Linked DNA regions of Homo sapiens: region 1 is reported to be linked to region 2. Evidence: microRNA targets listed by miRTarBase, many of them from high-throughput screens and not tested one by one. Region 2 holds a microRNA gene; the other region holds the end of a gene's coding sequence.

Region 1 (4,495 bases), not on the chromosome of region 2:
ATGTCCAGTGGTGAGACCGGCATTCCTCCTCCCAGGGACAGTGAGTGACTGCAGGCCTTGGGGCCCCAACACTCAAAAACAAATGTCCTGCCAAGTGGAGGGCCCGGCAGAGGCTCTTCAGCAATTCCCATTTTCCCCAGTCCTAGCCCTGCCTCTCAGAGAAAGGGCCAAGCTGCCACCTCCCCCTTCTCCCCAGACCCTGTTCCAGGCCCCAGCTGGCTTCCTGGCTGGCTGCTAGCCCTGGCTTTCACCCCAAAGGGAGCCACTCGTAAACAGGAAATGCTTCCCAATGCGATGCCTGCTCTGGGCGCCATCGCCAGCCCACAGGCCGAGGGCAATAGCCAAGCAGCAGTGTTAGCTGTTCCCACCAACTGCGGAAGAGGGGGATGCTCAGGGGCTTCCCAGCTCTGGGGCCCGCCATGACGGAAGAGTTGCCAGGCCTGAGACAGACGCCCACAGGCCGAGCCCACCAGCCTGTGGCTCTGCCTCTGACCCCACTGCCCTCCAGCAGTAACCCCCCTGTGAGCTGATCCCTGACACTGAGCATTTCTGCTCCCTCTTCCCAGAGACAGTCTAAAGGCAGCCCCCAAGTCCCAGAAAGCTGACTCCCCTAGCATCGACTACGCAGAGCTGCTGCAGCACTTTGAGAAGGTCCAGAACAAGCACCTGGAAGTGCGGCACCAGCGGAGCGGGCGTGGGGACCACCTGGACCGGAGGGTTGTCCTCTGACAGGCCTGGCACGGAGGAGGGCCCACCGAGTGGTCCCATGAAACACTAAGGGTCGTCACGCCCTCCCGAGGAGCTCAAGGACCTGCCTGTCAGGACCAGGGCTGGGCCTGCCAACCCAGGGCAGTGTTGGGGCCGGAGGCTGCTGTGTCTGCCCAAGCTCCTCTCAGAGTCCAGTCCCCAGGCCTCCAGCGCTGTCAGCTGCACCCTGGCATTCTCACAGAGCTGGCTGCCCACCCAGTGGGGGGCTATAGCCTCAGAGACCACTCATCCTCTGGAATCAACCTCTTTCTAATACCCTCTTGGAAAAAGAGCTTGCCCCTCCTCCAGCACACTAGAGCTCTGGCCTTGTGTGTATATGTATACATACGTGAACACATGCCTGTGTGTGTGTGTGTGTGTGTGTACTTGTATGCACGTAGGCACCAGCACAAAGATCTGAATGATGCACCCCACCCCCACCCCAATAAAGAAATAACAGAAAACCCTCAACCCGAGCCGGCCTGCTCCTTCCCAGCTGACACGTGCAGCTGTCCGGGGGCCTCACCCTCTGTCCTGGAGATCGGGTTTCATGATGGCCCCAAGGAGTACTGGCTGCCCCAGGGCCTGGTCCCTGCACTCACCTGAGTGGAGCCATGGGCCTAGAGCCTAGGTCCCCACCTCTGGAACCTGCACCCTCCTGGAGAGCACCATGCACTGCCTGCCCTGGAATCCTGAACCCTGCCTTCCCCAATCTGCCTTTCTCATCCTGACTCCCTGGGGCAATGGGAGTTCCCCACTGGGGACATGGGAGCTGAGCCCCAGGAGTTCCTGGATGAAAGGGCAATGCACACTGCAGAACACTTTGCAGATCTCGGGGCAAGGGGAGGAAAAGCCCAGAGCAGTCCAGGGAGGGGCAGGTGCCCCAACCACTGCTGCAGCTGAAAGCCCTTCCTCACCGGGAGTGGTACCACCTGTCCCCAGGCTTTGGGAACCCTGGGCTTGGTCTCCTAATGAGCTTGTAATTGGCTCCCTCCGGCCCATGGAGTAGGCGAGAAGGAGCTTGTGCCTGCTCTTCCCCAGAGTGCGCTCCCCCATCGTGCTGCCCCCCAGGGTGGGTTTCCCTGCCTGGAGTCTCCAGGACAGGCTGCGATTGACATTGCTACCCCATGCACGTGTGTGCATCGCACCCACCGTGGACTCAGGCAGCAGAGACCAAGGACACTCCAGCTCTGCTCTGCAGGTCCGACATTAGCCCCCACCCGCGAAGAAGGAGGTTGTTCAAGGCCCAGGAGACTACCACTGCCCCCCAAATGCCCAGCCTTGGGCACCCCATCCGGGTGGCATCGGCACCACTTGGAGAAGGAGCCAAGGAACTTGGAAGGGTCCGAACTTGAGGAAGGTCTGTGCCTGCGATGAAACGTCCCAAGGCGGGCGGCTCCACGATACCCCGCGCCCTGCTGTGTGCGGTGTATGCCACCCATCCAGCCCATGCACCGACCCCATCCCGCCACTGTACCCACTGCCTGTCTTTAGAAGCGCGAGAAGCCCCCCGCCCCAGACCAAAGGCCAGAAGATATCGTGGAGCCCCTGCCCGGGGGCCGAGGCCCAACCGCCAGTCCCGCTCCTGCGTGGGCAGGGCGGGCCCCGCCCAGCGCCGCCCCCCGACCCTCGGTGGCGCCCGCGCCCGTCGGCCCCGCTCGCCGGACCAGTCTGGCAGCGCCCGGGCTCGGATTTCAAAGCCCTGGTTTCTGGCCGTGAATGGGCCTGCGCCCGCGCGGCCGTTCCCACAGCCCCCTCCCGCGCGGCCCGCCCTCCTTCCCTCCCTCCTCGCGGTCCCCCCTCCGCCGCGCCCACGTGACGCCCGATCCTCGGCGGCTCGGATTACCGCCGCCGTCAGTCCCCGCGCCGAGGCTGCGCCGCGAGCTGCCCGCGCCGCGCCCCCCGCGCCGCCCGCCAGCCCCGCTGCGACATGGCCCGCGCCGCCCGCCGGAGGCCCGCGACCCCGGAGCGCGGCGCGGCCGGCCGCTGAGCGCAGCCTGGAGGCGGGAGGCCCGGCCCGGCCTCGGAGCGAGCGCCCGCGCGGCCTGGCCCCCTCCCTTGCGCTGCTCCCCGCGCTCCGTGCGCCTAGCCGCCGCCGCGGCCCGGCCCAGCCAGAGCATGGAGACGGCGGAGAAGGAGTGCGGCGCCCTGGGCGGGCTCTTCCAGGCCATAGTCAACGACATGAAGGTAACCGGGGCGCGGCGGGGCCGGGCGCGCGGCGACGGGTGCGGGACCCCCCGGGGACGCGTGGCGGCGGGTGGCCGAGCCTCGTGTGGCCGCGCGCCGCGGTGTCTGTGTGTCCTTGTCTGAGCGCGTCCTGCCTGCGTCTGCTGGGCGCCCGTGTCTCCGGGTGCCCGTCTGGGGGTGTGGGTGCTCGTGTGTCGGGGTGTCCGTGCGGTGCCCGCGGTGGCCCCGTGGGGTCCTGACCCGAGCCTGTGCACACGCAGGCTCCCTGCGCCCCAGACCGCCAAACCATGAATGGGGTTTGGATCCAGGACCGACTCTAGGGCCCTTTAACGAGTCCGGGGTCTTACCGGCCTCCGCCCCCTTCCACCACCATGTTCCCCCACGGCCCCGGAGCCCAGACAATGCTGTCACCGCCAAAGCAGGAAAAAATAATAAAGCGGAGAACCGTTAACTCCTTCCCCGCCGACCTAGGCCTCTGCACCCGACCGTGAGACTGCGTCCCCCAGCCCCGCCCCACCCCCACAGCCCCAGGAAGCTCCAGGACTCCAAGGTCTCCAGGCTGAATGTCCCTGCATCCCAAGGATAGGCCTTGATCATCACCTTGGGAGGAGGCGGGATGAAGGTTGGGGTCGGTGGAGCAACCCCAAGGAAGCGCTTTTCCTACCCCATTACCACCCTGGGCTCTCAGCTCCGAGCCCTCCTTGTCTCCCAGGATTGCTTAAGGTCAGGCTGGATCCAACCACCCATTCATTCCTCACCCCACCAGGTGGGGAAACTGAGGCCTGGAAATGGCTCAAGGTCACTAAGGAGACTATTGGACCCTTCCCCTGACCTCAGCCCCCATTTTTCCTCCTGGGAAAATTAGTGGGTTCCTCTCCCCAAATGAGGCCAGGGTTTGGCAGGGCTGCCCTACGCTGACTAGGCAGAGAGGGCCCAGCTCCAGTGATAGGGTGGGGGCCAGGAACCAGTATTCCTGCCCTCCTGCCGTGCCCCCTTTCCTTAGCCTAGGATGAAGGGGCAGGATTTGGGGGCTGGGAGAAGGGGAAAGAACGAGGCACCCCACAGGATCTCCCAAGGGCCCCCACCCCCACAGCCCAGCGCAGATTCTCCAAGTGCACAACACAGAATCCCACCAGGCCAGGGATGGGGGTGACACCACCCAGTACAGTGCTGCTAGGACAGGCCCCGTGAGGGGTGGGGGTTGCTGGCAGGTTGGAGTTCGAGGCTCCCGGTGCTGCCAGGACAACAGCCCCAGGGACAGCTGCCAGATCTCTGCCCCCGGAAGAGGCCTGAAGCCAGCCTGGCCTGGGACTACCCAGTTAGCGGCTTGTAGATGCCCCCCACCCCCTGCCCCTCATGGTGCACTCCCCCTGGGACCCCCATCTCTTGCAACTGTACATCTGGGCCCCTCCGCTGGCCCCCAGCAGTCCCCACCTGTCCTGTGGACATCACAGCCCTGGCCCCAGGATCCTGTTAAGGGACTGGGCAACACAGACCACCCTCCCCTGGCCGATCCCAGAGCTGGCTCCGGATGGGCCTTCCCGCACCCCACCACCCACCA
Region 2 (4,000 bases):
CTCTCCCACTTCTCACTTTCCCCAAATCCGCATTTTCCTTGGCACAGCTCTCCCCGAGCACGAAGGAGAGGGAGGTACCCGGGGGCAGTGAGAATGACGTGTGCTGGTGCAGAGGGGGTGGGGGTCTGCGGGCCTGGATCTGTGGACGGGCTCCTAATCCTCTTGTTTTCGGAACCGTCAGCAGATGCGGCTTCCTTTACCTGAATAATCCTTTAAAGGAGTAATAATTTTTAAAAAGGAGCTCGACCTCAGCCAAAGAGGACGGCGCACGAGATTAGGGCTTGGTAAGGAAAAATTAAAAGGCTCCCAATTCTCTCTGTCCCTCTCTGCCTTCCCCTCTACCCCTCCCCCTCCCTCCTCCACCCTCCCCTCCCCTCCCCCTTCTTCCTCATCCCCTGCAATCCGCGCTCGACGCGAGTTCACGCGAAGGGCTGGATTTCCAGGCGGCTCCGCAACTTGCGCGGCGCGGTGTTATTATTCATCCGAGGGTGCTGCCTCCTCAACCTTTGCCTCCTGCGCCGCTCTCCTTCCCCCGGCCGCCGCCGCCAGCAGTGCAGTCCCTCCGGCACGCATGCTCTGGTTCACCAAGAGGGAGACTGATTTTTTTTAAATCATGCTCATCATCATCATCATCATCATCATCATCATCATCACGTTCCTTATCATGGTTATCATTTCCTCCTGCCAGGTGGAGCGACCACCAGCGCCGGCTCGCCTCCTGCGCCTTCCCCAGCGAAGGCAGCAAGCAGTTCGGGCTTGGCCGTGGCGGCCGCTCCCAGGATGCTTCCTGCACCTCCAGCATCCCCCCCCTTATTCATCTGCCTGTGTATTATCTCGATCCTTTTCATTTCAGTAGATCCACTGCCTTTGGTTGGGCCGGCTGAATCGCTGGGGACTGCGGCCAGTCTCTTAAAAAAGGAGAACAAAAAGCCGAAGACCTTGTGTGGCCGCCGGGACAAAGCACCTTGGGTTCGGCGAGAAGGGACGCGCAGGAGCGCTGAACCCAGAACACGCGTGGCCGCTGCGGAAGGGCGTCCGCCCGGCGTGCGGAACGCTGAGGGTATTCGGATTGTCTTTTATTTGTCCCTGTGGCTTGCTTTCACAGTGTCTACGTAGGAGAGGGGTCGGGGTTGTTGGGGTCTCTTTTTTTTTCTGGGAGGGGTAGCTGAATTGTGGGAGACCTAGGTGGACTTGACTTGGCTTTCCTGCTACTCTGCGTCTCCTTCTCAAGATGCGGGGGTTGGAAAGGGGACAGGGGACTCAAGGCTTAGAAAAGAGAAGGAGCCCTCTGCTGCCTGGAGGGCTAAGGGAGTAGAGAGTGGAGATGGAGGTGAGTAGGGATGGGCCAGCCCGAAGAGCACTGAGGAGGAGAAGGGGTCTTCTCCTCCCTCGGGTCCAGTGGATGAGTTTTGCTGGGAATGAGAATTCGGGTGTCTGTCGATAGGAGCGCTGAGAAATTGATGAGAAATTGACATGTCCGTGCACATGCATGAGGCGGCGACAGGATTTGTGTGTAAACAGTGTGGAGAGGTGGAGGAGGGCATGGGGGTGGGGGCTTAAAATGATGTCTTATTGTCCTTTTGGCTTTAGGGACTCTCATCCTCTGTCTCGCCCCCTTTTTTTGACCCGGGGATCCAGCCGCATTATACACGAGTGACCTTTTAAATCTACGTCCACCCTTTACCTGGTAAAGCCCGCTGACAGTTGGGGGTGGGGTGGGGAGAGTGTAGGGGTGCTCTCTCCCTCTCTCCCTCCCTCCGCCTCTCCTCCCTCCCTCCCCCCTGCACTCCTCTCTCTTCCTCCCTCCCACCTCCCTCGCTCCCGCCCTCCCTGCTGCATTTTGCATGAGCTATCTAGGTCATTAGCATTTTAGCGTATGCAAGACTTGACAAAGCTGATGAGGGGCCAGATGGGCCTCGCTCTTATGGTTTTTTTTTCTTCTTCTTCTTCTTCTTCCTCTCTCTCTCTCTCTCTCTGTCTCTCTCTCTCTCGTCTCTCTTCCTTTCCCCCCTCCACCACTTGGGACCTGAGCGAGAGGACTGCAGCAGGCGAGTTCCGGAAGGCTGAATCCCCAGGTCCCAGCCCCGGACCGCGGCAACTCGCCCCTGCGGCACGCCCGGCCCGGCTGCGCCCCCACTCAGCGATGGAGGTAAAGAGGCGGCGGCCGCGCGCCCTGCCCCGGCTGCCGCTGCCGAGTCCCCGCTGCTCTCCTTGTCCTTCGCTCTCTTCTTCCTCCTCCTAGTCCCCTTCAGTTTCCTGGGCGAAGCAGAGGGCGACATGGGTGGGTGGGTTGCTGCGCTGGGGCGAGGTGGGGTCGATGTTGTTTTTTCATTGTCTGGAGCTGCAGGGGAGGCGAGGCGCGGGGAAAGGGGCGAGGGGAGCCGGGGTAATTAACACGGGGGAGGCACCCCTCCGTCTCCCACTTCCACCCACACCCCCATCCCTCCACCCCCTCCGCTTTGCAGGAAAAAGCCTGGATGCGAAAGGATGGGGGAGAACAAAGAGCCTTTGGAAGACGTCGCTGTTATCTCATTGTCTGTGTGATTGGGGGAGCTGCGGCGGGGAGGATGCTGTGGTCCCTTCCTCCGGCGTTCCCCACCCCCATCCCTCTCCCCGCTGTCAGTGCGCACGCACACGCGCCGCTTTTTATTTCTTTTTCCTGGTTTTCTTATTCCATCTTCTACCCACCCCTCTTCCTTTCTTTCACCTTTCCTTCCTTCCTTCCTCCTTTCCTTCCTCAGGAGAAAGGCCTCTCTCTCCGTGTTCACAGCGGACCTTGATTTAAATGTCCATACAATTAAGGCACGCGGTGAATGCCAAGAATGGGGCTGGCTGAGCACCGTGGGTCGGCGAGGGCCCGCCAAGGAAGGAGCGACCGACCGAGCCAGGCGCCCTCCGCAGACCTCCGCGCAGCGGCCGCGGGCGCGAGGGGAGGGGTCTGGAGCTCCCTCCGGCTGCCTGTCCCGCACCGGAGCCCGTGGGGTGGGGAGGTGTGCAGCCTGTGACAGACAGGGGCTTAGAGATGCAAACAGACTCAGGGAGAGAAACAGAAGCTGATTCTGTGACAGAAGCAGATCTGTGCAGCACAGATGCGGTGTGCGTGGGGAGGGGGTCGCCTGGGAGCGCATTGCGGAGTGCTTGTGTGTGCAGATTTTTCTCTGGGCTCAGGACTCATTGTATGTGGGTCAACACCTTCCTCCGTGACTGTGTTTTTGTTCTGAGCTGAGTTTTTTGGTTTGCCCTTAAAAAAATAATAATTTGGCATCCAGAGACTGGCAGACTGCCTCAGGGCCTGGACTGCGGATATATTGTGTTCTGCTTGAGGTTTGGGGAGGAGGGCAGGCGGTAGGAAGGGAGAGGGGGAGCTGTTTGTCACACTTTGCTGTAGAGCTGAGAGCACCTGACAAGCTTAAGGAAGTCGTTGGGCTATGTGGACAAGAAGGAGCCAGCTCCCAGCGGGTTCACAAGCTCTATCGGAGTTGAAAGCGTGGTCATGGCTCTAAGGAGCACCTCACGCCCTCCCTGTAGCTGTTATTGCAGTTTCAGGCAGAGATCCAGGAGCTGCAGAGGAAGGGAGAGGCACAATAACCTACATGGACCCAAGGGAGACATGTGTTCCTTTAAAAATGTGAACAGAAGGAAAAACAGAATGTGTGCAACTGGGGGTCTGAGGAAAGACTGTTTTGAAAGAGGCTGTCAGGGAATGGAAAGGGTTAAGCTTTTCATCCTGAAGAACCTGCTTCCCAAATCAGGCCTTCCTCCCATCACTAGACCCTGAGCAGCAGCTGGTCCTAGAGACCCCCCTCGTACTGCGCTGCCACAGTCTCATCCCATTTCCAGCTCTGTATTAACCACCAAGCTGCAGCGGATGGGGCAAGACCTAAGCTCATTAATTTCCAGGTGGAGGAAATGGAGGAGGGGCAGGTCCCTGCAGTAGAGGGAGGAGCAGAGAAAGGAGGCCAAGAGCTGGATCCTTCTGCCCAGGAAGCCTGCTGCATCC

Evidence for each region. Region 2 holds the annotated microRNA hsa-miR-124-5p (CGUGUUCACAGCGGACCUUGAU, at 2,760-2,781, shown strand). A microRNA usually pairs through its seed, bases 2 to 8, with sites in the 3' UTR of a target mRNA and lowers its output. Matches are read on the target gene's strand: a 7mer-m8 pairs with bases 2 to 8, a 7mer-A1 pairs with bases 2 to 7 and ends in A, and an 8mer does both.
Region 1: miRTarBase lists VAC14 as a target of hsa-miR-124-5p. Seed matches in the 3' UTR shown: 8mer at 1,098-1,105.

What each region holds. Positions count from the first base shown.
Region 1 is chr16:70,684,162-70,688,656 of GRCh38, reverse strand. It overlaps VAC14 (VAC14 component of PIKFYVE complex), which reads left to right. Exons shown (of 19, transcript NM_018052.5): 19 at 567-1,218. The coding sequence ends at 729. It overlaps MTSS2 (MTSS I-BAR domain containing 2), which reads left to right and starts at 2,604. Exons shown (of 15, transcript NM_138383.3): 1 at 2,604-2,934. The coding sequence starts at 2,866. RefSeq lists an enhancer at 570-1,076.
Region 2 is chr8:9,902,219-9,906,218 of GRCh38, reverse strand. MIR124-1 (microRNA 124-1) reads left to right here and starts at 2,747; the gene lies at 2,747-2,831. MIR124-1HG (MIR124-1 host gene) reads left to right here and starts at 2,890. Exons shown (of 3, transcript NR_024281.1): 1 at 2,890-4,000. LOC124902057 (a long non-coding RNA gene) reads left to right here. Exons shown (of 4, transcript XR_007061170.1): 2 at 857-1,060; 3 at 1,591-1,687; 4 at 2,032-2,149.